Linked DNA regions of Homo sapiens: regions 2, 3, 4, 5, 6 and 7 are each linked to region 1. The links come from fine-mapping of genetic effects on gene expression. A gene starts in region 1. Each other region holds a variant in brackets. All regions are shown on one strand. Distances are from middle to middle. Region 1 holds the start of SLC44A5 (solute carrier family 44 member 5). Region 2 overlaps SLC44A5 (solute carrier family 44 member 5). Region 3 overlaps SLC44A5 (solute carrier family 44 member 5). Region 4 overlaps SLC44A5 (solute carrier family 44 member 5). Region 5 overlaps SLC44A5 (solute carrier family 44 member 5). Region 6 overlaps SLC44A5 (solute carrier family 44 member 5). Region 7 has its middle 35 kb from the start of LHX8.

Evidence for each region. PIP is the estimated chance that this variant, and not a neighbour inherited with it, causes the effect.
Region 2: its variant is the best candidate, but not a certain one, in a credible set for the expression of SLC44A5 in activated CD8 T cells (Schmiedel 2018, PIP 0.60).
Region 3: its variant is the best candidate, but not a certain one, in a credible set for the expression of SLC44A5 in whole blood (INTERVAL, PIP 0.63).
Region 4: its variant is the best candidate, but not a certain one, in a credible set for the expression of SLC44A5 in liver (GTEx, PIP 0.57).
Region 5: its variant is the best candidate, but not a certain one, in a credible set for the expression of SLC44A5 in esophagus mucosa (GTEx, PIP 0.65).
Region 6: its variant is the best candidate, but not a certain one, in a credible set for the expression of SLC44A5 in whole blood (TOPMed, PIP 0.88).
Region 7: its variant is the best candidate, but not a certain one, in a credible set for the expression of SLC44A5 in whole blood (TOPMed, PIP 0.86).

What each region holds. Positions count from the first base shown.
Region 1 is chr1:75,608,714-75,612,781 of GRCh38, reverse strand. SLC44A5 (solute carrier family 44 member 5) reads left to right here and starts at 1,668. Exons shown (of 24, transcript NM_001130058.2): 1 at 1,668-1,742.
Region 2 is chr1:75,396,651-75,400,718 of GRCh38, reverse strand. All of the region lies in intron 2 of SLC44A5 (solute carrier family 44 member 5), which reads left to right. Among named protein-coding and RNA genes, the nearest start is that of SLC44A5, 210 kb to the left of the region's middle. The variant C/G (reference allele first, on the strand shown) is at 1,875.
Region 3 is chr1:75,373,306-75,377,373 of GRCh38, reverse strand. All of the region lies in intron 3 of SLC44A5 (solute carrier family 44 member 5), which reads left to right. Among named protein-coding and RNA genes, the nearest start is that of SLC44A5, 240 kb to the left of the region's middle. RefSeq lists enhancers at 1-300, 301-1,082, 1,083-1,866, 711-1,910. The variant T/C (reference allele first, on the strand shown) is at 1,912.
Region 4 is chr1:75,391,082-75,395,149 of GRCh38, reverse strand. All of the region lies in intron 3 of SLC44A5 (solute carrier family 44 member 5), which reads left to right. Among named protein-coding and RNA genes, the nearest start is that of SLC44A5, 220 kb to the left of the region's middle. The variant C/T (reference allele first, on the strand shown) is at 2,043.
Region 5 is chr1:75,450,802-75,454,869 of GRCh38, reverse strand. All of the region lies in intron 2 of SLC44A5 (solute carrier family 44 member 5), which reads left to right. Among named protein-coding and RNA genes, the nearest start is that of SLC44A5, 160 kb to the left of the region's middle. The variant A/G (reference allele first, on the strand shown) is at 2,415.
Region 6 is chr1:75,461,232-75,465,299 of GRCh38, reverse strand. All of the region lies in intron 2 of SLC44A5 (solute carrier family 44 member 5), which reads left to right. Among named protein-coding and RNA genes, the nearest start is that of SLC44A5, 150 kb to the left of the region's middle. The variant C/T (reference allele first, on the strand shown) is at 1,798.
Region 7 is chr1:75,167,170-75,171,237 of GRCh38, reverse strand. It overlaps a transcript of LHX8 not described here. Among named protein-coding and RNA genes, the nearest start is that of LHX8, 35 kb to the right of the region's middle. The variant C/T (reference allele first, on the strand shown) is at 1,740.

The sequences.
Region 1 (4,068 bases):
TCAATTACTTAAGTGTAAAACTTATGTTTAGGTTAATTTATTCATTTATTCATTTAGCACATATTTATTGAGCACTGAATATGTACCAGATTCTGTGCAAAACACTAGGGATACGGTAATGAACATGATAGACAATGAAGTAAGAGGAGGCCTGGAAGAAGCAGGTGACAAATAATATGAACCAGAAAATTTCACATAGTGATTAATACCAGGAGAAATAAAACAAAGTGATGTGCGAGCAAATGATTTTGAGGTTACTTTAGATTGTCTGGAAAGGTGGCATTTGTGTCGGGAAACAAGTGATGAAGAGTAATTTGCATGCCAAGAACTGGAACATAACACTTCAGGCCTTAAGGTAGAAATGAGGTGGTAGCTTGGCACATTCACATACAAAAGGAAGAGGTGTAATGTGTAAGGAAGAGACAGTTAGGGAGAAGCCAGGCCTTTTTGGTCATAAAAAGGAATATAGAGTTTAAGTGCAATGAGAAGCCATTGGATATTCACTTGCTATTTGGGGATACATTCCTCTCCTGGAAGATTATTTCAGGGAGAGGAGCATTCCTACATCAACTCCCTAGGCCAACTAAGGTGACCTAATAGACTTCACTTTTCTAAAAGGTCCAGTTATACTCACGTTATTTTCTCTTGCTATTCACCAGAATACCTATGCAATTTCAGGCTGAGATATTGATAGCATCTCTAGGAATCCCTGCTTAGAAAACAATTCTAGAGAGAATGAGGATTAATTTAACATTTAGTACAAGATGATAAGATTAGTCACTTCCCTGGCAAGCCTTTCAATGCAAGTAAGTCTTAGGAAAAACATATTGTAATGGTAGAGGGGGATTCTGAGGGGTCCAGAACATGACTGTGCAGTAGGCAGAATGTGGAAGGCAGCATGAGGGGCTCCTAGATAACAGAAAGGGGTCCACAGAAGGAGAAGAGTGATGTTTGGAAGGGGACATGAGAAAGCCTCTAAAACAACATCAGCCAATTCGTGATTTTGCCAAGTGGAAGCCTGATATGAGCATGTTCCAAGAGAAACATTCTCATTCAAACACAGAAAAAGTTTAAACCAGGGTACTTTTATGCTTTTGACTGATCTTTTTATAATGAAGCATTTGTAACAATAAAAGCACACAGATGTTTACAAAGTCTCTTTGATTTTACTTAATCACTGTCAGGTTGTTCTGATGGATTACAGACCTCACAAATGAAAATAGCATGAACATATTAATGATAACTGCTGTTTGTTGGAGGTAGTTGCTTGATAGCTAGTTAAGGAAATCATGCTCTTGGGTCTCATTTTACTGTAGAGATGTTGGTAAGTGGGATATGGGGTATATTGGATGATTTTCTTTCCCCTAAGCATTTGTGACAAGAAGGTGCTATGATATTCAGGAAAGACACAAATAATAGTAGATTATTTTAAAGGTAATCATGGCCTACTTCCACCTCCAAACTACCTACTTCTTTGCCAAGGATTAACAATGAAAAAATATACTATAGCTCCAGGACTTTGTTCAGTCTCCTCCCCCTCTTTATACTCCAAGTGACTCCTTTGAGGCTAGCAAGGCTAGTAGGACCTCAGGGATTACCTAAGAATGGGGTATGGCCCTTAGTGATACTGGAACACAATGTGTTTATGACATCAGCTTTTTTTTCACAGTAGTGAATCGTAGCATGTTAGAGTTAGAAGGTTCAGTGTTGATGGAGTTATTGAAGAAATGATGGAGTAAGAGGTGAGTGATACTGCTAAATGCAAGAAGTCTATGTCTGTAGGAAAATTGGTCAAGTTTGTTATTCATAAGTACGTATTCTATACAACTCAAGAAATACACACACACACACACATATATATAGTGAAGTCTGAATATAAATTAGGAACTGAGCACTTCCTCTCCGTGTGTGTGTGTGTATATATATAGATATCCTGGGGGATTATTTAAAGAGAGTAGTATTTTTACATCAGCTCCCTAGGCCAAGTAAGGTGACCCAATGGACTTCACTTTTCTAAAAAGTCCAGTTACACTTATGTATCTTCTCTTAATATTCACCAAAATATCGACAATATTTCGGGCTGAGATGTTGATAACATCTCTAGGAATCCTTACCTACTGGTATTCACACCTGTTCATACTCCCCTTCCAAAATGAATCACAGCTGACCATGTGATCAGTACTGTACAGCAGAAAACTACATCATAAAGACATACACTATGGCTTCTGCCTTGTTCTTTTGTATTCTTTGCTTTCTTATGTTGCTCATTTTGGGGAAACCAGATGCCATGTTTTAAAAATACTCAAGGATCCCTTGGATTATTTTTTGAAGCAGAGGTTCATACAGATATTATTAACATTTCAGCCCAAAATATTGTCGGTATTTTGATGAATAGTAAGAGAAGATACATAAGTATAACTGCACTTTTTAGAAAAGTGAAGTCCATTGGGTCACCTTACTTGGCCTAGGGAGCTGATGTAGAAATATTGCTCTCTCTAAATAATTCTCCAGGATATCTATGTGTATATAGGTATATGTATGTATATGTATATACCTATGGAGAGAGAAGAAGAGCTCAGTTCCTAATTTATATTCAGACTTCACTATGTGTGTGTGTGTGTGTGTGTGTGTGTGTGTGTGTGTGTATTTCTTGACTTGCATAGAAGTCTTGAATCTTAGCTCTGTGTGGGAAGAACTGAGGCCTCCTGCTAATAGCAACAACTTGCTAGTTATGTGAGTGATCTATCTTGGGAACAGACCCTGCAACCAAGTCAAGCCTTCAGATGACTGTAGCTTCAGCCAACATCTGACTGAATTTCATGATAGCCCCGACCCAGAGCTATCCAATCAAGCTGCTTCTGGATTCCTGAATCACAGAAACCATAAGATATAATAAATGCTTACTCTTGTCTTAAACCACTAAAATTTGGGGGTAATAGGTTACATAACATTAGATCATGAATATACCTGTGGTTCATTATTTTTGCACCTCTATCATGAAATGTAATATTTGTTACTAGTTCCAACACTGATCTTGAATCTTAGCCCTCTTTCCTATTTAGTGAATTGGGCTGAAACCCTGAAGTTCTCTTTTCTTGTTTCCCTTGAGTTTCTTGTAGCAGCTTGCTTTCTCCTCTGCTTTTTTGAGTACTGATTCCTGGCTCCTCTAGTTCATTTAGTTTAGAAGATACTTTCCAAATTGAAGCACTACCGAACCAAAAATCAGAGTGATAAAGAGAATACAAAAGCCCTAAAATCTCCCAACAGCACAAGATTTCACAGTCCTCCAAACTAAGAAGATAGAAAGTTTCTTAAAATCTACAATCTTTTATTCTCACCATCAAAAATAAGAATGTAAGGTAATGAATATGTTAAATAGCTTGATTTAGCCATTCCACAATGTGTATATATATCAAAACATCAGGTTTCACACCATAAATATATAAATTTTTACTTGCCAATTAAAAAAGAAAAAACCCAAAGAAATGAAACCCTAAAATATTCAAATAAAAACCTTTCCAGCTGTATTTATCTATTCCTCCTTACCAAAGAATCCCTTCCTCCTCCCAGCCCAGTTAGTCCTTTGAGGTATAAATAGGAGACTGAGAAAGAGGATTTAAGAAAGGAAGGTTGCCGTCTCTTCTACTTGAGAGTAGGATATTAATCTATTTTATTCGTTCATGTAGTTCTCTATTCATTCAATAAGTGTTAATCAATCGCTTACTATGTACTGGGCACTATTCTAAGCATGCTTGGGATAAATCAGGGAACAAAATGAATTCTTCATGAGGTTTACACTATACATAGGGAAGACAAACAATGAATAATAAGCATGAATACATTGTTGATATTAAAAATTGAAAAGTGCCATGACAGAAAGAAAAAAAAATGAGCATAGTAAGGGGGATTTGGATTGCTAATCATGGGATGATGGTGGGCCAGCTGCAAGTATTAATAGGGTGGTTAGGGTAGGACCAATTGACGAGGTAATATTGAAGGACATGAAGCAGTGGAAGGGGAGGAGACTTCCAGAAGGAAGGAAAAGCCAGAGCAAAGACCCTACAGTGA
Region 2 (4,068 bases), 210 kb after region 1:
CCAAGCAGGTGGGCTCAGGAAAGGGGAATGGAGCCCTGGGCAAAGCAACTAAGGCAGAAGCCCAGACTTTCACATTGATGAGCCCAACACAGGGGGTGAGGGAAAGCTGCTGACAGTGACAAGAATGCTAGAGCAACTCAAATGTTAAATGAGTGCAGGGACTCATCCCTGGCACCTGAAGCCCAAAGAGTGAATAGAAGTAAAGGTCGTACTTAAAAATGCGTAACCTTTGGGTTTGATTCCTGAAGATTCTACCTACTAGTTATGTATTCTGAGTACTAAAAAATAGGCTCTGTGAGAAGGACCCATGCACTTCCATTTCAAAGTAACTATTTTTAATTAAAATAATTTTTATTACTGTAAGAGCAGGTTTTATACAATTACAGATTCAGGGATACATGTGCAGGTTTGTTATGTGAGTATATTGCATAATGCTGGGGTTTGGACTTTTATGGAACCCATCACCCAAATATAGTGAACATAGTACCTAATATGTTGTTTGTCAACCCTTGTATCCCCATCCTTTCCTCTCCTTTCTTAGAGTCATGAATGTCTATTGTTTTCATCTTTATGTCTACATATTCCCTTGGTTTAGCTCCCACTTGTAAGTGAGAAAATGTGGTGCTTGATTTTCGGTTTCTGTGCTGATTCACTTTGGATAATGGCCTCCAGCTTCACCCACGTTGCTGCTATGGACATGATTTCATTCTTTTTAACAGCGGCTTAGTATTCCATGGTTGTGTATGTACCACATTTTCTTTATCTAACCTACTGTTGGTGAACACTTAGGTTGATTCAATAACTTTGGTATTTCGAACAGTTCTGCAATAAACATATGAGTGCAGGTATTTTTTTGTAAAAAGATCTGTAGATTGCTTATAAAAGCAGTTTTACATGCATTACAGAAAGTCAAAGAAAACATCAAAGTAAAATTTAACTAAATAAAGCAACATATTTTAATCACCACTGATAAAACCGTTCTTATATTTCCTTCCAGATATACAATTTTTTTACAATAATGAGATTTTGCTTTTACATGCTTTTTGCTACCTGCTTTTTTTCTGTTAAGATTTTCCATCTTTCCATTACAACAAATGTTAAATTTAGCTAATATTCATTCTAATTCAGATTGCCCCAATTGTCCCCCAACACTGTATTTACCACATTCTGTCCAAATCAGGGTCTAATCCAGGGCCAGACCTTGCATCTGGTAGCTATGTCCCTGAAGTCTCTTCTGATTAGCACACTCCCCTTTTCCTCTGACACTGACCTATTGCCCTCGAGAATATCTCACTTTCTGGATTTGTTTAGTTCCTTTCCAGTGATTTCATTTAGTTTATTTATCTTCTTTATTTCTTATGTGTAGGTTAGATTAAATATAAATCATTGGTGGTGGCTCCTGTTGGGTATTTTCAGCCAGAATACATACTAGCTAGGTATGCCGTATAAACTCTATTGCCTTACATCAGGAGAAACAACATCCGGTTGACCCATCATTAGTGATGCTGTGCTTGATTATGGGTCTAGGGTCTTGCTTCTTTTTAATAAGGTCTCAGGATGACACAATAGGAGCAGGACTCACATCAATGCGTTCCACTCATTGCTACCCCCTCCTCCACCTCCATCTCCTACCAGTTCTCATCCCCCTGAACAGACCTTCCAAGCAAGAAAGACAAAAGGGAATGAAGTGTGGTAAAAGGCCCAGCAATAAAACTGGAAAGTATGACTCTTTTGGCTCCTAGTCTGAAACTTCATTCTAAATTTACTATACTAGATATAAGCAGGCAGGGTGAATGTCCAAGAACTTCTCTCACACTAGATTCCAGTCTTCCCAGTTGTTGTCAAGGTCAAAATAGTATGGCTTTGGTATCTTA[C/G]GCAGACACCAGAAGGCAGCCTACATAAGATACGAATGTTCTCCTAAACAAGTTTTGAAAAAGACATAAGCTGTTACAGAAAGCAGGCTCAACCATCTTGTAAACTGATCATGCCAAAATATGAACTTTGCTTTTTTTGATTCATTATGCAAAATTGAGAAAGAGGAGTCAAAACTATACTGTATGGAATTTAGCCTGGGAGATGGAGACCACCTAGATCCTGCTTTCTTTGTTTGCTTTGTTTGTTCCTTAACCAATGACAAGGTACAACGTTGGTCAAATATTTTCACCAGCCTAGTTTCAGTATTCTCAAGTGTAAAATGGGGTATATGATACAGTGTATGGTTGTTAAGAGGATTTAACTTCATCTGTGAAACACCTACATTATAGTAACTACCAGTTCCCTTCTCCTCTCATTGGCAGGGTCTGAGATTACTGACATGCTTCCTGCTATACCCGGCACTGATTCCAAATGGGACTGGGTCTGCAGGTGAAATTTACTAGTTTATATAGCTGAGGGAGCTGGAGAAAATTGGAGTAGAGGGCTGGAGGCAGAGGCTGACCACTGTTATTATATAAGCTAAAATGTGATTAGAAGTGCATGATACAAAAAGCTATGACATGTAACCTTTTAAGATAACCATGAACCTCGAATTTTGTTGTTTTTTAAAAATGTATTCGGAACATTAAAGGCAAACTCAGTCATTTAGGGCCCAGGAACAGGAAAAAGGTAGTCCGTATTGTATCTTGACATTTTATTCATTTTATTCTACCTCTCAGGTGCCAATCCTTGCACGTACATACTATTTTAAGAAAATCAGCAAGGGATGGCCATTTTATATTTTGGGCACTTCATTTAGCTTTTTAAATGGTAAGTGTGAAACCTGTATGTCCCTAATAATGCTTACCATCCTAATGAATGTGGGTCAGCATTGCTAGTTTTAAAGGTGTGTGTGTGGTGGTGGGGAATATCCTGAAAATGTTATGAGTAATCTTTATTTTTCTCATACATTTGACATTACTGGAGGCTAGTAGTTATATTGATTACAAATGGACTCTGGAGCACACAGACCTAAGTTTGAATTCCAGGTTCCCCACTTACTAGCAGTGTGACTTTAAACAAAGATTAGACCCAAAAGTTCACGTTGCCTCTGGGAACCTTGGATTCTCATTTTTAGAAGTGAACCGATTATTGTAACTACTGCAAGGCTTGTTGTGAATATTAAATGAGATAACATAAATGAAACATGGCACCTGGTGCATAGTAAGTGTTCAAAAGTTGGTTACTATTTTAATTATCGTTATTATTATTTTTCCCAAAGGAACACAATTTACAAATGTTCGCTTTCCCTGGAATCTTTACCCCAACTCTGACTCTCAATGATTTGCTACTGTTAGTCCGATTGATGAAAAATCAATGGGGAAACCAAGCATTGTAATCTCTGCCCATGAGGTCTATAGACGGAATTCTTTTCAATAGCTCTAATTAATGAGTTGGCAAGTCTGATAAAGCACCAGAGAATGGGGTGTTCATAGAAAGCATTAGTGTTTTTGTTTAACATATGTGACACTTGAAGCATTAGGATGCTGTTATTGTTCATTATGGCACGTGCCACCTCCCCATTCCCCAAAATTACCATAATTTGTACCTTCCAAATTGAATAGAGTCATTCATAGTTATCACATGGGAGTTTCTGTTAAAGCTAAAGGCCACACGTAGTGTGATTAAGGTGGGACTGCTGAATTCAAAATATATCTCTTTTCCCTAGGCTACACTGGCTATTCTGCATGTAATAAAAGGTATTTAATGCATATTAAGTTTTTCATGACTAATGTGTCTTCTGAAGTTTAAAGCAGGAACAGAAAATGAAAGTAAACAAAATGCCTCATTTCTTAGTAATGAATTTTTCAAGTCTCTACATATCACCTACATTATACAAGTCATAGATGCAAATGGAAGAATTAACAGCTTTATTTCATCATCCCCAAACCTCTTACCTCCAGCACCTTCATGAATTATTTTTTTGGTAACTTCTTAAGAATAAATGCTCATTATTGGCAGCTTTGTGTATAAAGAATTACTTCAACCAGTCCAACTGCCTTATGTTATTTTGTGTGTTAGTCTAAAGACTAAGATTTTTTAGGATAAGGAGAGATGTGTATAGAACCTCAGAGTCATCAGCCCCTACAAATA
Region 3 (4,068 bases), 240 kb after region 1:
TTTGTGTCCCTGGGTACTTGAGATTAGGGAGTGGTGATGACTCTTAAGGAGCATGCTGCCTTCAAGCATCTGTTTAACAAAGCACATCTTGCACCGCCCTTAATCCATTTAACTCTGAGTTGACACAGCACACGTTTCAGAGAGCACGGGGTTGGGGGTAAGGTTATAGATTAACAGAATCTCAAGGCAGAAGAATTTTTCTTAGTACATAACAAAATGGAGTCTCCTATGTCTACTTCTTTCTACACAGACACAGTAACAATCTGATCTCTCTTGCTTTTCCCCACATTCCATTGCTGATACCCTTTCTTCCAGTTGATAGCATCGACTCCTGAGGCTTCTTCATTCTTCACGTAGTTCTCGAGCCTTGGTTTTCAGCTCCATCAGCTCCTTTAAGCACTTCTCTGTATTGGTTATTCTAGTTTTACATTCTTCTAAATTTTTTTCAAAGTTTTCAACTTCTTTGCCTTTGGTTTGAATGTCCTCCCGTAGCTCAGAGTAATTTGATCGTCTGAAGCCTTCTGCTCTCAGCTTGTCAAAGTCATTCTCCATCCAGCTTTGTTCCATTGCTGGTGAGGAACTGCGTTCCTTTGGAGGAGAGGCGCTCTGCTTTTTAGAGTTTCCAGTTTTTCTGCTCTGTTTTTTCCCCATCTTTGTGGTTTTATCTACTTTTGGTCTTTGATGATGGTGATGTACAGATGGGTTTTTGGTGTGGATGTCCTTTCTGTTTGTTAGTTTTCCTTCTAACAGACAGGACCCTCAGCTGCAGGTCTGTTGGAGTACCCTGCCGTGTGAGGTGTCAGTGTGCCCCTGCTGGGGGGTGCCTCCCAGTTAGGCTGCTCGGGGTTTAGGGACCCTCTTGAGGAGGCAGTCTGCCCGTTCTCAGATCTCCAGCTGCGTGCTGGGAGAACCACTGCTCTCTTCAAAGCTGTCAGACAGGGACATTTAAGTCTGCAGAGGTTACTGCTGTCTTTTTGTTTGTCTGTGCCCTGCCCCCAGGGGTGGAGCCTACAGAGGCAGGCAGGCCTCCTTGAGCTGTGGTGGGCTCCACCCAGTTGGAGCTTCCTGGCTGCTTTGTTTACCTAGGCAAGCCTGGGCAATGGCGGGCGCCCCTCCCCCAGCCTCGCTGCCGCCTTGCAGTTTGATCTCAGACTGCTGTGCTAGCAATCAGCGAGACTCCATGGGCGTAGGACCCTCTGAGCCAGGTGTGGGATATAATCTCGTCGTGCGCCGTTTTTTAAGCCGGTCGGAAAAGCGCAGTATTTGGGTGGGAGTGACCCAATTTTCCAGGTGCGTCCGTCACCCCTTTCTTTGACTTGGAAAGGGAACTCCCTGACCCCTTGCACTTCCCAAGTGAGGCAATGCCTCGCCCTGCTTCGGCTCGCACACGGTGCACACACCCACTGACCTGCGCCCACTGCCTGGCACTCCCAAGTGAGATGAACCCGGTACCTCAGATGGAAATGCAGAAATCACCCATCTTCTGTGTCACTCACGCTGGGAGCTGTAGACAGGAGCTGTTCCTATTCGGCCATCTTGGCTCCTCCACGATTCAGTGGTAATGAATTTTCTTAGTGATTGCTTGTTCGGGAAAAATTGTCTTTCTCCTTCTGTTATGAAAATTAGTTTGGTGAGATACAAAATACTTGGTTGGTATTTCTTTACTTCAAGAATGCTAAAAATAGGCCTCCAGGTCTATTCTGGCTTGTAAGGTTTCTGCTGAGAAGTCCACTGTTCACCTGATGGGGTTCCCTTTGTGAACAGTGATAGAAAAGTGATATGACCCTTTTCTACAGTTGCCTTTAAGATTTCTTTTCTTGTTGACTTTGAAAATTCTGATGATTATGTGTCTTGAGGAAGGTCACCTTGTATAATGTCTCACAAAGATTCTCTGAATTTCTTGAACTTACA[T/C]GTCAACTTCTTTCGCAAAATTGGGGAAATTGTTGTGGATTGTATCCTCAGATATGTTTTCCAAGTTGCTTACTCTCTCTTCTCTCTCAGACATGCCAGTGAGTCACACGTATAGTCTCTAGAGGGTTTGTCTATTTTTAAATTATTCTTTTTTATTTGTTTTTGTCTGACTGAGTTGATTTGGAAGACTGATCTTCAAGCTCTGAAATTCTTTCCTCAGCTTGGTCTAATCTGTTATTAAGACTTTCAGCTGTATTTTGAAATTTCTATAGTGAAATTTTCAATTCCAGAAGTTGAGTTTGGTTCTTACTTAAAATGGCTCTGTTGTCTTTCGATACTTGGATCATTTTTTGAGTTTTCTTGGATTGGGTTTTAATTTTCTCTTGAATCTCGTTGAGCTTTCTTGGCCATCCATATTCTGAATTCTATGTCAGTTGTTTCAGACATTTCAATCTGGTTAGGATCCATTGCTGGAGAGATAGTGCAATCCTTTAGAGGTAAGGAAACACTCTGACTTTTTAAATTGCTAGAGTTCTTGCACTGATTGCTTCTCATATGAGGGGGCCAGTATTTCTTTTTGAAATTGCCGTCATTTGGATGGGACTTTTTGTTTTTATAATAATTTTTGTGTTTGACTGTGGTGTATGTTGTGTATAGTACTGGCTTCATTTCTATGTGCTTTTAGAGGGCCAAGGCTGTGTAGAGTTCCTCAGTTGTGGATCCTTTCCTGCATGGGTCTCCAGGCATTGAGCGCTGAAGGGATGTATTTTTGCTTCCCGGTGTGATTCAGGTTGCAATCCAGTAGATAGTGCTTAAGAGTCAGGGCTGGCAGATAGGCTCTTAGCCACATGCCTCTTGTGTGTTTCAGTGCATGTGCAGCGGTGCCCTGGGGAGGGGAATGGGGGGCAAAAGATGACTTCCTCACCAAGTTTGTCTACAGGCCTTAGTGGAGTACCCTGCAGTTACTGGCATCACGCCTGCATTTCCTTAGCATCAAGTGGGGCTTTGGTGGGCTACCTTCTCCACACCTTCTTAGGTGTGGTCTGTGCCAAGTGTTAGGTCACCAGGAGACCCACAATTCCCTGGAGACCTACTGGTCCTCTAAGCCTGGCAGAGTCCAAGGAGGTTGTGAGGTATGTCTGCAGGTAGTCTGGTGATTCAGTGGGTCAAGAGTGGAGGATCCTGAGGGAGAGTGGTGGTACCACAGGTATTCAGCTTGTGTGTTGACTGTGGCCAGGGATTTTAGCCCAGAGGATGATTGTGGGACCTGCTCAGCTTGCACCCCTTCTACTGGGTCTCCCTCTGATGCCTGCGTAAGAACAGGCCCAACCAGCTAGACTTGTCCCAAGCCTTCTGCATTCAGGTCACTTGCTGTTCCAAAATGTTCTAGGCTGCAGGGCTCCTTGGGGCAGAAGCTGCAGCTAACAGGCTACACCCTTTCTGGACTGGTCTGGTGGAGGGAGGGATGACCAGCTCCCATGCCACCACATGAGCACAGGCCACACTCCCTCAGTGTTCTGAGAGTGGGGGCTCCTCCCCAACCTGAGCTCAGGCCACAGATCTCAGCTTGATGCCCCTGGGTAGTGTGCTTGAATCCTGGGGGGTAGGGACTCGGCCAGTAGTTTTGTCCTCTGAACCCTCAGGGTTGAGTGCCAGCTGTGCTGGGGGAGTTTAACTCCTCCCAGACAGCTGGCAAAACACTCAGGTGGGGCAGTAGAGGCTGTGCTGTGGGCAACCTCCTGCAGGAGTAGCCAGGCAGGTTGTCTTAGGAGGGACTGGTGGACAAGGCAGCGTGTGGATCAGATGTGCCCTGCTCCTGCAGGAAAGGCAGCCTTGCTCTCTCCTGGCCGAACAGTCAGCAGGAGCTACAGTCACTCAGAGCAAGATAGAGAGCCTTCTGGGATAAATGCCTGAAGTCACGTTTAGTTGCTGCTGCACCACGTGCCACCTTGAAACCTTCAGGGTTCTATGCAGGTTCAATCTCTGCCTCTGTCTGGTCTCTAAGAAGTTCCTCCTGCCAATTCAAATGTCTGTGGGGGTAATGGGATCTCTTGTCTCTAGGATCCCAGAGGGTTGTATTTGGGGTGTGGTGCCTTGGAGTTCCTTTACTCACCCCTTCCTTAGGACCTGTTGAGGGCCAGGAGCTGGTCTTGGTGC
Region 4 (4,068 bases), 220 kb after region 1:
GTTTATGAGATAAATAAGCTAATGAGGAAAAACACTCCACTTCTGATATAAAGTAGCCCAAGGAGAGAAGTACCACTGAGTGCTGCTTCTGCTTGAATGGACAGAAGTAAAAGAAAGAGGAAAGGTTCAATATAGGATATTGTACTATGCCATTTCCATTCTCCCAGACAAGGTATTACTGGGATAACTCTGCTGAGTCATGGCCCAGGAGGAACTGTTGGTTTTGCATCCACTAAAAGTGCATCTCAGCAGAGGGAAACACTCCCAGATCCTAAGATCTGGGGTGCACTCAGTATTCAGGGGTGAGTGGATAAACAGGCCTTGGATTTCAATTGGGTGGATGATGGCATTTTTGTCTTTTCTTTTTGGTTCATTCACTCCACATTTACACTTCTTTTTAAGAGCCTGATATTAAAGAAAGCTTAACTGTGCTAACAATGGGGGTAAGCTTGGGAGAACTGGAGTGTTATTGGTGTTAACCCATAGGACACATTCTTCAACAGCCTTGTGTTCCAAAGAAGCTGAGGCCCACCAAAGCCAGTGGCTCGTTTCACTTCCTCTTCTGTTACAGGGAAGGGTTGACCTCATCCTTTCCAAGGCTCATAGTACCTCTATCAGCATTGCCTCTTCAAAGACTTTGCTCTTGCAATTATCCCCTCTCTCTCTTGCCTACATGTAAATATGCCTTAATACAGCCGCCTGAAATTTATTTAAAAAAAATGATCAATTAACCCTTTCATCACGCTAAAACTCAAAAGAATTGTTTATAGGCATTGACTCCACTTTTCTCCTATTCTCTCATTAACCCACTCCAACTGGAGTTGTATCTGCATTACTTCATGAAACAGTTTTTTATCATTTCCACAGACTTGTATCTTGCTCTTCCATTACAGAATTCTTTTCCTCACCTTACTCTCTCTCAGCAGCATTTAGCATGCTCAGCCACTCTACTTTTTTAAACTTTCCTCTTCTGCTTCCAAGATACCACACTCTCCTGGGTTTCCTCCTGACTCTCTGATCTCTCCTTCTCTGGCCAGTCGCTCACACTTAAAGTCTGGGTGTTGGAGAGCCCCCAGGATGCATTTTCTCTGACTTTTCTAGGTAATTGTATCTGATCCCATAGTTTTAAATACCATGAATGTGCTGTTAAGTCCTAGATTTACATCTCTAGCCCTGATTGCTCTTTCTTGCCCTGGACTTATTTATTTGACTTTATACCCCACCAAATCTGCTCTTGTGTCTACCTTCCTTTCTCTAATAAGGGCATCACCACTCACCATCTCCACTAAATTGCTTCATTCAAACAACTGTTATTTCTCAGTTAGATACCTACCATTACCTCCTAACTCATTTTTATCTGCAGCTATTACCCTACTCTGGTCTATTCTCCACAAAATAATCAGACAAATCTGTTTATAATTACAGTTCCTATTTTCAAAATCAAGTTGTGAAGTGAGCAAATAAATAACCAACTGCTATTTAAAATGCTCAAAGCACAATTCTAATGAGTCAATATTACTTTTTTCATTTATCACATTTTATCTAATTTATAGTACATAATTATCAAACCACAAAAGCAAATATATTAGCCTAAAGTACAGTATGCCATTTTGGATATTGGCTACTTTGCCCCTACCAATTTGATTCTGACATGTCAAAATCTTTATTTATAACCTAACATAAACATATATTACTTTAAAGTATACAGGATAAAGAAGAGTTTTTAACCCTTTGTAATAACATAAAACATGATTACATTGTCATATGTATACATATGTATGGGCATATGTGTATGTATACAGAGAGTCTTTTTAAATGAGGTATCAATACTTGTTTCATAATAATCCTTCAAATAACACTTCCTTAGCCAAATCAAAGAAAGTTGAGATGGCTTTCCAGCTTTTTTAGGCAAAGATCTGCATGACATGCGAGACAATGAAAACAGTGTTTAGATATTTTTCTATCTTATTCTTTGAATTTCAAATTTTATTTTAGATTCAGAGGGCACATGTGCAGGCTTGTTACAAGAGTATATTGCATGA[C/T]GTGAGGGTTTGGGATAGAACTATTGAGGTAGAATCTGTCACCCAAATAGTGAGCAGAGTACCCAATAGGTTGATTTTCAACCCTTGTCCCCATCCTCACTCCCATCTTATAGTCCCTAGTGTCTATTGTTCCCATGTTTATGTCTGTATGTACCCAATGTTTAGCTCCCACTTATACGGGAAAATATGCAGTGTTTGGCTTTCTATTTCTGCATCAATTAACTTAGGATGATGGCCTCCACCTACATCCATGTTGCTTCAAAGGACATAATTTCTCTCTTTTTGTGGCTGCATAGTATTCCCTGGTGTATATGTACCACAGTTTCTTTATCCATTCCACTGTTGATGGGCACCTAGTTTGATTCCATATCTTTGCTATTGTGAATCCTGGTGCAATAAACATACAAGTGCAGGTGTCTTTTTGGTAGAACAATTTCTTTTCCTTTGGATATATACCAAGCAATGGGATTGCTAGGTTGAGCAGTAGTTCTATTTTTGCTTCTTTGAGAAATCTCCAAACTGCTTTCCACAGTGACTGAACTCATTTACATTCCTACCAACAGCATAAAGAGTTCCTTTTTCTCTGTGTACTCACCAACATCTGTTATTTTTTAACTTTTTTATAATTACCACTCTCACTGGTGTGAGATGGTATTGCTTTGTGGTTTTGATTTGCATTTCTCTGATGATGCATGATGTGAAGCATTTTTTTCGTTTGTTTCTTGGCCACTTGTATATCTTCTTTTTGAAGTATCTTGTCCACCTTTTAATGGAATTGTTTTTTACTTGTTTGGTTAAGTTCCTTATAGATTCTGGATATTAGACCTTTGTTGGGTGCATAGTTTGCTATTAATATTTTATCCCATTATGTCAGTTGTCTCTTTACCTGTTGATAGTTTCTCTTGCTGTGCAGAAGCTCTTCAGTTTAATTAGGTCCCACTTGTCAATTTTTTTTTTTGAGACAGGTTCCCATTCTGTCCCTCAGGCTGAAGTACAGTGGCGTGATCATGGCTCACTGCAGCATAGACCTTCCTAGGCTCCAGTAATCCTTCCATCTTGGCCTTCTGAGTAGTTGGGACTATGTGCCACGATGCCTGGCTAATTTCTATGCTTTTTGTAGAGATGGGGGTCTCACTATGTTGCCCAGGCTGGTCTCAAACTTCCAGACTCAAGCAATCCACCCATCTTGGCCTCCCAAAGTGCTGGGATTACAGGTGTGAGCCACTGTGCCTGGCTTAATTTTTTTGTCGTTGTTGTTAAAATTGCTTTTGTGGACTTAGTTCTAAATTCTTTGCCAAGACCAATGTCTAGAAGGTTATTTCCTAGGTGGTGTTCTAGTATTCTTATAGTTTGAGGTCTTACATTTAAATATTCAATCCATCACGAGTTAAGTTTTGTATATGGTGATAGGTAGGAGGTCTAGTTTCTTTCTTTTGCATATGGATAGCCAGCTACCACAACACCATTTATTAAACAGGGAGTCCTTTCCTTATTGCTTATTATTGTTGGCTTTGTTGAAAGTCAGTTGGTTGTAGGAGTGCAGCTTTATTTCTGAGTTCTCTATTCTATTCCATGGGTCTATACGTCTGTTTTTATGTCAGTACCATGCTGTTTTGATTACTGTAGCCTTATAGTATAGTTTGAAATTAGGTAATGTGATGTCTGAAGTTGGGTAATGTGATGCCAACTTTGTTCTTTTTGTTTAGGATGCTTTGGCTATTTGGGCTCTTTTTTGGTTTTATATAAATTTTAGATTAGTTTTTTCTAATTCTGCAAAAAATGGTGTTGGTGGTTTGATAGGCATAATGTTGAATCTGTATATTGCTTTGGGCAGTATGGCCATTTAAACAATATTGATTCTTCCAATCTATGTGCAAGGAATATTTTTTCATTTTTTCATTTGATTGTGTCATCTATGATTTCTTTCAGCAGTGTTTGGTAGTTCTCCTTGTAGTTCTCTATTTTACACCATTGGTTAAATGTATTCCTAGGTATTTTATTTTATTTTTGGCTATTGTAAATGGGA
Region 5 (4,068 bases), 160 kb after region 1:
AGCAGTGTTTTGTAGCTCTCCTTGTAGAGATCTTTAACCACCATGGTTGGATGCATTTCTAAATATTTTTGTGCTATTATTTTAATTAAAATTATGTTCCTGATTTGGCTCTCAGCTTGAATATTTTTGATGTATAGAAATGGTACTGATTTTTGTACATTTATTTTGTATCCTGAAATTTTACTGAAGTTGTTTATCAGGTCTAGGAGCCTTTTGGGGGATTCTTTAGGGTTTTCTAGGTATAGAATTATATTATCTGTGGGGAGAGAGTTTGACTTCTCCTATTTGGATACTTTTTATTTATTTCTCTTATCTGATTGCTCTGGCTAGCACTTCTAGTTCTATTTTGACTAGGAGTGGTAAAAGTGGGCATCTTTGTCTCTTTCAGTTCTCAAGGGGAATGTTTCCAGCTTTTGCCTATTCAGTATGATGTTGGCTGTGGGTTTTCATAGATGGCTCTTATTATTTTGAGATATGTTCCTCGAATGCCTTGTTTCTTAAGGGTTTTAATCATAAAGTGAGGTTGGATTTCATCAAAGCTTTTTCTGCATTTATTGAGATGACCATATGTTATTTTTATTTTTAATTCTGTTTATAAGATGAATCACATTTATTGATTTGCGCATGTTGAACCAACTTGTATACCAAAAATGAAGCCCACTTGATCATGGAGAATTACATTTTTTAATGTGATGCTGGATTCATGTTGCTAGTGTTTTGTTGAGGATTTTTATATCTGTGTTAATCAGGAATATTGGCCTATAGTTTTCTTTTTTCGTTGTGTCCTCACACACATTGGGATCAGGGTGAGGATGGCTTCATTGAATGAGTTAGGGAAGAGTCCCTCTCCCTCAATTTTATGGGATAGTTTCAGTAGAATTGGTAGCAGCTCCTCTTTGTATGTCTGATAGAATTTGGCTGTGAGTTCATCTTGCCTAGGGCTTCTTTTCATTGGTAGCTATTTCATTACTGATTCGATTTCAGCACTTGATATTGATCTGTTCAGGATTTCAATTTTTTCCTGATTCAATCTTGGGAGAATGTGTGTTTCAAGGCATTTATACATTTCCTCTAGATTTTCTAGTTTCTGTGCATAAAGGTATTCAGAATAGTCTCTGAGGGTCTTTTGTATTTCTATGGGATTGGCTGTAATGTCATCATTGTCGCTGGTGATTGAGCTCGTTTGTATCCTCACTCTATTTTTCTTTGTTCATCTAGCTAGTGGTCTATTGATCTTGGGTATCCTTTCAAATAAGCAACTTTTGGTTTCATTGATCCTTTGTATCAATTTCAAAGGGTCTCAATTGGGTCTCAATTTCAATTAGTTATTCTCTGATTTTAGTTATTTCTTTTCTTCCGTTAGGTTTGGGGTTAATTTGTTCTTGTTTTTCTAGTTCCTCTAGATGTGATGTTAGATTATTAATTTGAGATCTTTCTAACTTTTTGATGTAGGTGTTTAGTACTGTAAACTTTCCTCTTAACACTACTTTTGTTGCATCCCAGACATTTGGTTATGTTGTGTCTCTGTTTTCATTTTATTTCAAAGAATTTATTGATTTCTCCATTACTTTAATTGCTTACCTAGAAGTTATTGAACAGCAAGTTGTTTAATTTCTATGTAATTGTGTGGTTTTGAGAGATCTTCTTGGTATTGATTTATATTTTTATTCCACTATGGTCTGAGATAAAGTATGAGTTCAGTTTTTGAAAATTTATTGAGACTGCTTTATGATCAAGAATGTGGTCCGTCTTGGATTAATTTCTGTGTGCAAATGAGAAGAATATATATTCTGTGGTTGCTAGATGGAGTATTCTGTAGATGACTATTAGGTCTAATTGGTGAAGTGTTGAACTTTTAGTCTAGAATTTCTTTGTTAGTTTTCTGCCTTGATGGTCTGAATAGTGTTTTTGGTGGGAAGCTGAAGTCCCTCACTATTATGTGGCTGTTTAAGTCTTTTCATAGGTCTAGAAGTACTTGTTTTATGATTCTGTGTGCTCCAATCTTGGGTGCATATAGATTTAGGATAGTTACATCTTCTTGTTGAGTTGAATCCCTAATAATTTTGTAATGCCCCCCTTTGCCCTTGTTTGTTGCTAGTTTAAAGTCTGTTTTATCGGATGTAAGTGTAGTGACCTCTGCTCTTTTTTCATTTGGATGATAAATCTTTCTCCAACCCTTTACTTAGAGCCTATGGGTGTCATTACAAGTGAGATAGGTCTCTTGAAGGTAATAGACAGATGTGTCTGGTTTACTTATTCAACTTGCCACTCTTTGCCTTTTAACTGAGGAATTTAGACTATTTACATTTAAGATTAATATTGATATGTGAGGTTTTGATCCTATTATGAAGTTGTTAGCTGGTTGCTTTTTACTTTCTATTGTGTGGGGGCTTTACAGGGTCTGTGGGCTCTGT[A/G]CTTAAGTGTGTGTTTGTGGTAGCAAGTATCATTCTGTCATTTCCATGTTTAGAGCTCTCTTAAGGATCTCTTGTAAGACTGATCTAGTGATAGCAAATTCCCTTAGTGCTTGCTTGTCTGGAAAAGATTTTATTTCTCCTTTGTTTATTAAGCGTAGTTTGGCAGGATATGAAATTCTTGGTCAGAATTTCTCATCTTTAAGAACACTGAAAATAGGCCCTCAATCTCTCCTGGCTTGTAAGGTTTCTGCTGAAAAGTCCACCGTTAGACTGACGGAGTTACCTTTGTATGTGATCTGACCTTTTTCTCTAGCTGCCTTTAAGATTTTTTCTTTAGCATTGACCTTTGACAGTCTGGTGACTATATACCTTTGTGGGGTTTGTTTTGTATAGTATCTTACTGGTGTTCTCTGGATTTCTTGTATCTGGATGCCTCCCTCTCTAGCAGAGTAGGGAAATATTTATAAATTATTTCCTCAAATATGTTTTCCAGGTTGTATCGCTTCTTGGCCTTTTGGCTAAGATCAAGTGTTTTCAAGGTTGTTTACTTTTTCTCCTTCTTTCTGGAATGCCAATAATTCATAGGTTTGGTTGCTTTAAATAATCCCATATTTTTTGAAGACTTTGTTTACTTTTTAAAATTTTTTTTAAAAAAATTTTGTCTGACTGATTTAGTTAGAAAGATCAGTCTTCAAGTTCTGAAATAATTATTTCTTTTTCTTGGTCTAGTCTCTCAATATAGTTTTCACTTATATTTTGAAATTCCTTAAGTGAGTTTTTCAATTTCAGAAGACAGAATGCAATCTTTTAATGATGACACTACCTTCAGATTTTCCATGGTGCCAGAATTCTTCAGCTGGTTGCTTCTCATCTGGAGATGCTATTAGTTTTAATTTTTGTCATTGTTTTCATGCTGGTAGGATTTTTTATTTTTTTCTTTTTGTATAATATTATTATTTTTTTGTTCATTTTCCTATCCCTTCCCTTCCTAGGGAGTACGATGGTAGAGAATGCTGGGTAGGGTTCTTTGGTTTTGCTTCTATAGCCTTATGCACATTTTTTTGGCAGGTATTATATTGGGCTGTGCAGTTCAACCTACAAGCCCATAGATTGTGCTTATAGGTAAGAATTGGCTGCGGCTAACATGTCTGGGTACTTACTTGATCCTTATTTACTAGCAAAAGCTCTTTGTTGCCTCAGATAATGGGCCAATTCATGGAATGCATAGTGGTCTGAGCTCCCTGCTCAGCTCTGGTGGGCAGTGGAGGCCATGATGGGCAAGACCAAGATGGCCCACCTAGAAGTCGCCTGCTGGCAGGCACAAGCACCAGTCCCAAGGGAGAATCCAGTGGGTAGCTACCAAGTGCTTAGAGGTGTGCCTAAGCATGCAGCTGGGAAACCTCCTTGGCTCCAACTTCCTTGCCTGGGGTTGTGGGGTGAGCTGAACTCCTAATCCAAGACAGTGGATGCTCCAGATGCCTAAAGACCTGCTTGGATGTGGAACAGAGAAGGCCTTGCTGTAACACACTCTAAGTCAGGAAAGGTGGGGTGGCTCAGGAGGCTGGACCAGTTGAGTGGATGCCCCAAATACCTGGAGTTCTGCCCATGCATGAAGGAGGGAGGGCCTTCCTGTACTAGGATCTTTGCACAGGAA
Region 6 (4,068 bases), 150 kb after region 1:
GTCTTCATTGACCCATATCCAGGAGCATATTGTTTAATTTCCATGCATTTGTATAGTTTCCAAGATTCTTCTTGTTGTTGATTTCTAGTTTTATTCCATTGTGTACAGAGAAGATGACTGATATTATTTCATTTAAAAATATTTTAAGACTAGTTTTGTGACCTAACATAAGGTCTGTCATTGAGAATGATCCATGTGCTGATGAACAAAAAATGTGTATTCTGTAGCTCTTGGATAAAATGTTCTGTAAATATCTATTAGATCCATTTGGTCTATAGTGCAGATGAAGTATGATGTTTCTTTGTTGATTTTCTGTCTAGAATATCTGTCCAAGGCTGAAAGTGAGGTGTTAAAGTTTCCAGCTATTATTGTATATTGTACTGGGGCCTCTCTCTTTCTTTAGCTGTAATAATATTTGCTTTATGTATCTGGGTGCTCCAGTGTTGGGTGCATATATATTTAAAATTGTTATATTCTCTAGCTGAATTGACTCCTTTATCATTATACAGAGACCTTTGTCTCTTCATATAGTTTTTGTCTTGAAATCTATTTTGTCTGATACAAGCATAGTGACTCCTGCTGTCTTTTGGTTTCCAATAGCATGGGATATCTTTTCCCATCCCTTTATTTTCAGTTTATGTGTGTATTTTTTGTAGGCAACAGGTTATTACTTCTTTTTTTTCCCATCCATTCAGTCAGTATATTTTGACTGAAGAGTTTAGTCCATTTACATTCAACGTTATTATTAATAAATAAGGACTTCTGTCATTTTGTTCTATGTTTTCTGCTTGTTTTGTGGTCTTTTCTTCCCTTTCCTTCCTTTTAATGAAGGCGATTTTCTCTGGTGATGTGATTTAATTTCTTGCTTATTTTTTGTGTATCCATTGTATGTTTTCTGGTTTGAGGTTACCATGAGGCTTGCAAATACTATCTTATAACTCATATTTTAAGCTGATACCAACACTGTTTCATAAACAAACAAGCAAAAAGAAAACAAATAAAGACTCTATGCCTTAGCTTTGTCCTCCTGCTTTTTACCTTTTTCTTCTTTCTTGCTTTTTTTTTTTTTTTTTTTTTTGAGACAGAGTCTCACTCTGTCGCCCAGGCTGGAGTGCAGTGGTGCAATCTCGGTTCACTGCAACCTCCACCTTCCAGGTTCAAGTGATTCTCCTGCCTCAGCCTCCCGAGTAGCTAGGACTACAGGTGCATGCCACCATGCCCAGCTAATTTTTTGTGCTTTTAGTAGAGATGGGATTTCACCATGTTAGCCAGGATGATCTTGATTTCCTGACCTCATAAACCTCCTGCCTTGGCCTCTCAAAGTGCTGGGATTACAGGCATGAGCCACTGCGCCCGGCCTCTTGTTTCTATTTATATCTTATTGTGCTATGTCTCAAAAAGTTGTTATTGTTTTTGTTTGGTTCATTGTTTAGGCTTTCTACTTAGGATAACAGTAGTTTACACACCACAGTTACAGTGTTGTAATATTCTGTGTTTTTCTGTGTACTTACTATTACCAGTGAGTTTTGTAACTTCAGATGATTTCTTATTACTAATTAACATTCCTTTCTTTCTAAGTGAAGTACTCCCTTTAACATTTCTTGCAGGATGAGTCTAGTATTGATGAAATCCCTCAGCTTTTGTTTGTCTGGGGAAGTCTTTATTTCTCCTTTATGTTTGAAGGATATTTTCACCAGATATATACTATTCTAGGGTAAAAATTTTTTCCTTTATTGCTTTAAATATATCATGCACTCTTTCCTGGCCTGTAAGATTTCCACTGAAAAATCTGCTGCC[C/T]GACATATTGGAGCTCCATTGTACGTTATTTGTTTCTTTTCTGTTGTTGCTTTTAGGATCTTTTTTTTTTTTTTTTTTTTTTTGAGACAGAGTCCCGCTCTTTAGCCCAGGCTGGAGTGCAGTGGCACAATCTCGGCTCACTGCAAGCTCCGCCTCCCAGGTTCACGCCATTCTCCTGCCTCAGCCTCCCGAGTAGCTGGGACTACAGGCGCCTGCCACCGCGCCCAGCTAATTTTTGTATTTTTAGTAGAGACGGGGTTTCACCGTGTTAGCCAAGATGGTCTCGATCTCCTGACCTTGTGATCCGCCTGCCTCGGCCTTCCAAAGTACTGGGATTACAGGCGTGAGCCACCGTGCCCAGCCAGGATCTTTTTTTATTAATCCTTGATCTTTGGGAATTTGATTGTTAAATGCCTTGAGACAGACTTCTTTGGGTTAAATCTGCTTGATGTTCTATAACCTTCTTGTCCTTGAATATTGATATCTTTCTCCAGGTTTGGGAAGTTCTCTGTCATTTTCCCTTTGAATAAACTTTCTACTCCTATTCCTTTCTCTACCTTCTCTTTAAAGCCAATAACTATTAGATTTGCCCTCTTGAAGCTATTTTCTAGATATCGCAGGTGTGCTTCATTTTTTTAAAAAAATTCTGTTTTCTTTTGTCTCTTCTATGTATTTTCAAATAGCCTGTCTTCAAGCTCACTAATTCATTCTTCTGCTTGATCATTTCTGTTATTAAAAGACTGTGATGCATCCTTCAGTATGTCAATTGCACTTTTCAGCTCCAGAATTTCTGCTTGATTCTTTTTAATTATTTCAATCTCTTTGTTAAATTTTTTCTGATAGCATTTTGAATTCCTTCTCTGCGTTATCTTGAATTTCATTGCATTTCCTCAAAACAGCTTTTGAATTCTTTGTCTGAAAGGTCGCATATCTGTTTCTCCAGGACTGGTCCCTGATGCGTTATTTAGTTCATTTGGTGATGTTGTGTTTTCATGGATTGTCTTCATTCTTGCAGATGTTCATCTGTGTCTGGGCATTGAAGAGTTAAGTATTTATTCTAGTCTTCTCAGTGTGGGCTTTCTTGTACCAGTCTTTCTTGGGAGGGCTTTCCAGGTATTCTAAAAGACGTAAGTGTTGTGATCTAAGCTGTATTTGTTTTAGGGGGTACCCAAAGTCCAGTAACACTGTGGTTCTTGCAGACGTGTAGAGGTGCCACCTTGATGTTCTTGGACAAGCACTGGGAGAATTCTTTGGATTACCAGGCAGACTCTTGTTCTCTTCCCTTACTTTCTCCCAAACAAACAGAGTTTATATCTTTGTTCTGAGTCAACTGGAGATGGGGGTGGAGTGACATAAGCACCCTTTGGCTACTACCGCTAGGAATGTCCTGGGTCAGACCTGAAGCCAGCACAGCACTGGGTCTTGCCCAAGGCCTGCTTAACTACTCCCTGGCTATGGCCTATGTTTGCTCAGTGCCATAGGGCTCTACAGTCAGCAGGTGGCAAAGTCAGCCAGGCCTGCGTCCTTCCCTGCAGGATTGTGATTTTCTCCAGGACCCAGGAGGGTCCATAGGTGTTGTTTGGGAGCCAGGAACTAGAGTCAAAAACCTTAAAAGGCCATCTGATGTTCTATTGTACTTTCCATTTTTCCCTCCCCTTTCCAAAGGCAGAGGAGTCTTATCCCATACCCACCACCACTCCAGGCCATGAGGAGTACTGGCAGATTACTACCAATGTTCCCCCTAAGGCCCAAGGGCTTTTTAGTCAGCTTATTGTGAATGCTGCCTGGCCTTGGACTCACTCTTTAGGGTAGTAGGCACTCCTCTGGCCGAGAGCAGTTTCAGAAATGCTATCCAAGGGTTTGCTTTGTATTTTTATTGGACAGTGCTGGCCTAGACAGTAACTCAATAATGAGAATTTTATGTTTTCTTTTGCTAGGAAAGAGCTATTTAGTCACCGTGGCTAGCAAAATTTGGTGACTTGGTTGACTTGGACAAATGGGATCCTCAAAACACAATTAAATATATCTAATGTCCTGAGACACACCACTCATAATAATATTAATAGTTACTCCAGTGAACTAATAATATTATTTACCTCTTTGGATTTTATAAGGATTCAATTAAGATAACACGTGTGTGAAGGTTGTGACCTAAATAATATTATCTTACAGGGAGAAAGGTGCATGTGAAAATTGTCAGAGATGAAAATGGTTAGGGAACAATTTTAAAACTATTTTCATACCTGATGTATAGTAGTAATGTGCTCGATT
Region 7 (4,068 bases), 440 kb after region 1:
AAATAACATTTTGGTAAAAGATTTCATGGAATTAAAAAAAAATCAACAAAAGGAATTTTGGTGTAAACAAAATAGATCTAATTATTCTAACTTTTTGACCTGCCAGGGCTGGTTAAGCTCTGAGCGTGCCTTAAGTTGGCTTGTTCCCAGGCCACCTGCCTCCCTCATTCTCAACTTTCACTGTATCATATGTGGTGAAAAAAGAAATTAAAGACCTGAGTTCAAATCCCAGCCCACCAGGTGAGTTATTTGGCCGTGCTGAGCCTCAATTGTATCATCTGTAAAGTGGGAATGATAATAATATACCATGCGGCAATGTTGTAAAGAGTAAATATAGTGTACTTTAAGCCCCCAGCTCACAGCAGACACTAGAAAAATAAACAGTAGATTAATGAGAGCAAATATGGTGTGAATTAGCAACTCCCTCCTACAGTCTCAGGGTTTCTCAAAGTGTGATCTCTGACCATCTGCTGCAAAATTCTTCCAGGAAGCTTAGGAGAGACAGAGACTTCTGATCCTTACCCCAGATGTGACAAATCAGAATCTCTGAGACTGACCATTTCTAATACCTCCCCAGTCTCCAGTTGACTCTTGAGTATCTTAAAATTTGAGAGCCACTGAATTACAGCCTGATTTAAAACTTATTATCCTTTTTAGTCATTGGTTTGTAAAGAAATAGATAGCTCATGTGTTTCAGTGATTTTTAAGCACTCTGCAGTTCCTGTGTCCCAAGGTCCACAGGTTCTCTTAACAATTAAATAATATGGTCAGTTTGGGAAAGCTTAAAAAGCTGATCAAAGTAGTTTATAGGGAAGCTGGCTTTGTGTTTGTTTTTGCTTTTGTTTTTGTCTTTTTTGCTTGACTTGCTGGCCAACTGAGCAACTGAGTGATTTTGTGCTATGATTTAGGCCCAGTGGGTGGCACTTACCTAACTCCCTGGGTTAAAGAGTTAATATTAAACAGAATTTTATATCACTTACTCATTTAGCTTGTTAAAATTTCAATTACCATACAAGGTGACTGGTCTAAAATCCACAGGTTCTTGTACTCGATAGTCCAAAAGAAATCGTAGCCCAGAAGCACTGAAGTCTTGAGTTTTCAGCTGAGCAGAGAAAAATGATTCAGCAGGCATGACAGTGTGGATTCATGTTAGCATAGAGGTAAGAATCCAAACAGCACATAGTGGCCATTTCTCTGGCAACATAGACCTGGGGTATCTGCTGAAAAGGAAAAAATGGAGCTGGCAGAGCTGGCATAGCTGGCAGGCTCCTAGAGTGTTCATCCAACAGTGGAACCAGGGTAGCACCATGAAGCCTGAAAAGTGAGCCAGTTTCACTGGCAAAGACCAGGAGTTCCCCCTCCACATTTGTGGTGCCTTTATTAAATGGGACCCACAGCTGAGTAGTGATATGGAGAACTTGGAGTAGGGCCACGAAAGGCAATCAAGATCAATCAGGCTTCTGGGGAATAAATTTTTCAAGGGCTTGGCCTTCTCCAGACCAGAGCAATGGAGCTGTGGGCTGGCAGAGTGAGTATGCAGGGGAAATCAACAGTTCATTGGGATGGCTCAGTGATAGTTTAAATATTTCTACTAAGAACATCAAAAGAAAGGGCTTGAGCTGAACTTCAGCAGAAATTGGGCTTGAAATTGGAGTACGGTTTGTGAGGGAAAGGGTTATCCTGTTCTAGGGAAAGCTCTAGAGCCCCTTTTCCACTTCAGAGCACCCACCCACCTCCAC[C/T]GCCCACTCTCCTCATTCACACCTCACTTCAGTAGCCACCACTTCTTGACGTAGGGTTGACAATATGCCAAATACTGTGCTCAACTGCATTATATTTAATATCTCATTTAATCCTCAGGGTAACCCTGCAAAGTGGGTAGTGGTGTGCTCATTTACAGAAGAGAAACAGGCTCCGTGAGATTAAGCAACAAGGCCATGCAGCCAGAAAAATGGCAGAGTCAAGCTGTCTCATTCCAAATCTCATAAACACTACTTTATCCTGCCCACTTGCGTATAGCTTGGGAGGCCAGTGTGACTGGAAGCAAGAGAGCAAGTGAATGAGTAGGGGAGTAGGGGAGAGGGTAGGAGATGAAGGCAGAAAGTAATGGGGTGCATGGGTGTGAAGTGGCCACCCCATGAAAAGTGCCCTTCAAGGCCACAAAGGATGTTACATTTTCTTCTTAATATGAAGGAAAGCCACAGGGGGGGTTTCAACAGAAAAGTTCTAATTTAGGTTTTAAACACATCTTTTTGAACATATTTTAGGGGGAAAGGGGTGGAAGCCCGGAACAAGTTGTGTAGGTATTTTAATAGTCCAGGTGGGAGATGATGTTTTGCAGTAGGTAGGAATGGCAAAGATGTGGGGAAGCAGGTAAATTCTAGAGACATTTCAAGGGTAAAACAAGCAGCATATGATGAATTGGTAAGTGATATGCCCACGGTTACATAGGTAGTAAGAGGCTGGACTGGAATTGGAACCAGGCTCTAACTACTTGAAAGCAGACCCTGTGAGCTTTCCACAAACTACAGTGAGCTGTGGTCATAGCTTCTGAGAAAGGGATTTCAGAATTCCTGCACCTGAGGCCAGAACAGGAAAAGCTCCCAGTGTGTGAAACATATGACTGAGTTATGTGTTTCCTGTGCGTCCTCTCTCTTTAAAAAAAAAGAGGGGTTGACAGCAGATTATCCAGGACAAATTGAAAACAATGACCAGGCCAGGTGCAGTGGCTCACGCCTGTAATCCCAGCACTTTGGGAGGCTGAGGCAGGTGGATCATCTACGATCAGGAGCTCAAGACCAGCCTGGCAAACATGGTGAAACCCCATCTCTACTAAAAAACAATGTAAAAATTAGCCAAGTGTGGAGGTGGGTGCCTGTAATTCCAGCTACTTGGGAGGCTGAGGCAGGAGAGTAGTTTGAACCCAGGAGGCAGAGGTTGCAGTGAGCCGAGACCACACCATTGCACTCCAGCCTGGGCAACAAGAGTGAAACTCTGTCTAAAACAAACAAACAAACAGAAAACTATGACTAGATACCTATCCGACCATTCTGGCCCACTTTGAAGGCTAATGAAGCAAGGTGTGCTGATGGCCTAGACAGCTACTGCGGGCAGAGGAAAAAGAAAACTTTACATTTTAACCTATATTAGACAGAAAATGGGAGGAGCCATTCGAGAGAAATAAAAAGACTCTGCAGCCACATTTACACAGTAAAAGCCAAATGGAAGATTGAGCAATTACCCAGTAACTGCAGGCTGGGGAGTCAGCCAATTTGGGTAACTCAGATAAAAACATGTGTTTGGCTGCTTCTCTTGCCTGAATTACTCGATAATGACCCAACCTGTCTGTTTTGCTTAGTCGAAGAGAACAAGAAACAGTTCCATCTGAGGCAGAGAACTTCCATGGGCCATCGTGTAGCCCAGGCTGAGGAGTTGCTGGGGAAAGGCTGTCCCTGGGATCCTGGCATGGAGTAAATTAACCATGGCAAGAGACTGCTCTGTCAATGCCCTGTGCTAGCTCCTAGAAACCCTAACATGAATAGTCTAGGGTCTCTAGTCTAATCTTGAGACAAAACTGAGGAAGGAAAATTATAATAAAACTTATTAAAGTGTAGAGATATCCTTTGAGGAAATGATGGGAACACAAAGAACTCACCCACATTGGGGTGGGGTGTGGGGAACAATCAGGGCAGGCTTCCTGGAGGGGATGATATTTGAGCTTGGTCCTGGATGATGAGGAATTGTTAGTCAGGAAAAGAGAAATGGAGAAAGGAGAGGGAAAGCTAGTGAAAGATGGTGGCATTTTTTTTCCTCTGGTGTTAGGAGTTAGTTTACCAAGGAATAAATACAGATAACTTTCAGGGTTTATTGTGCACCAGATACTTTTCTAAGTACTTTATATGTACTATCTTATCACAGGGTCACAATAACCATTTGGGAAAAGTGCTATTATTAGTCCATTTTGCATATGAGAAAACTCTGGCACAGCGCAGTTTAATAACTTGCCCACAGTCACCATGGTGGGATGTGGCAAAACGAGGACTCCAGACAGCATGACGTGAAAGTTTTTGT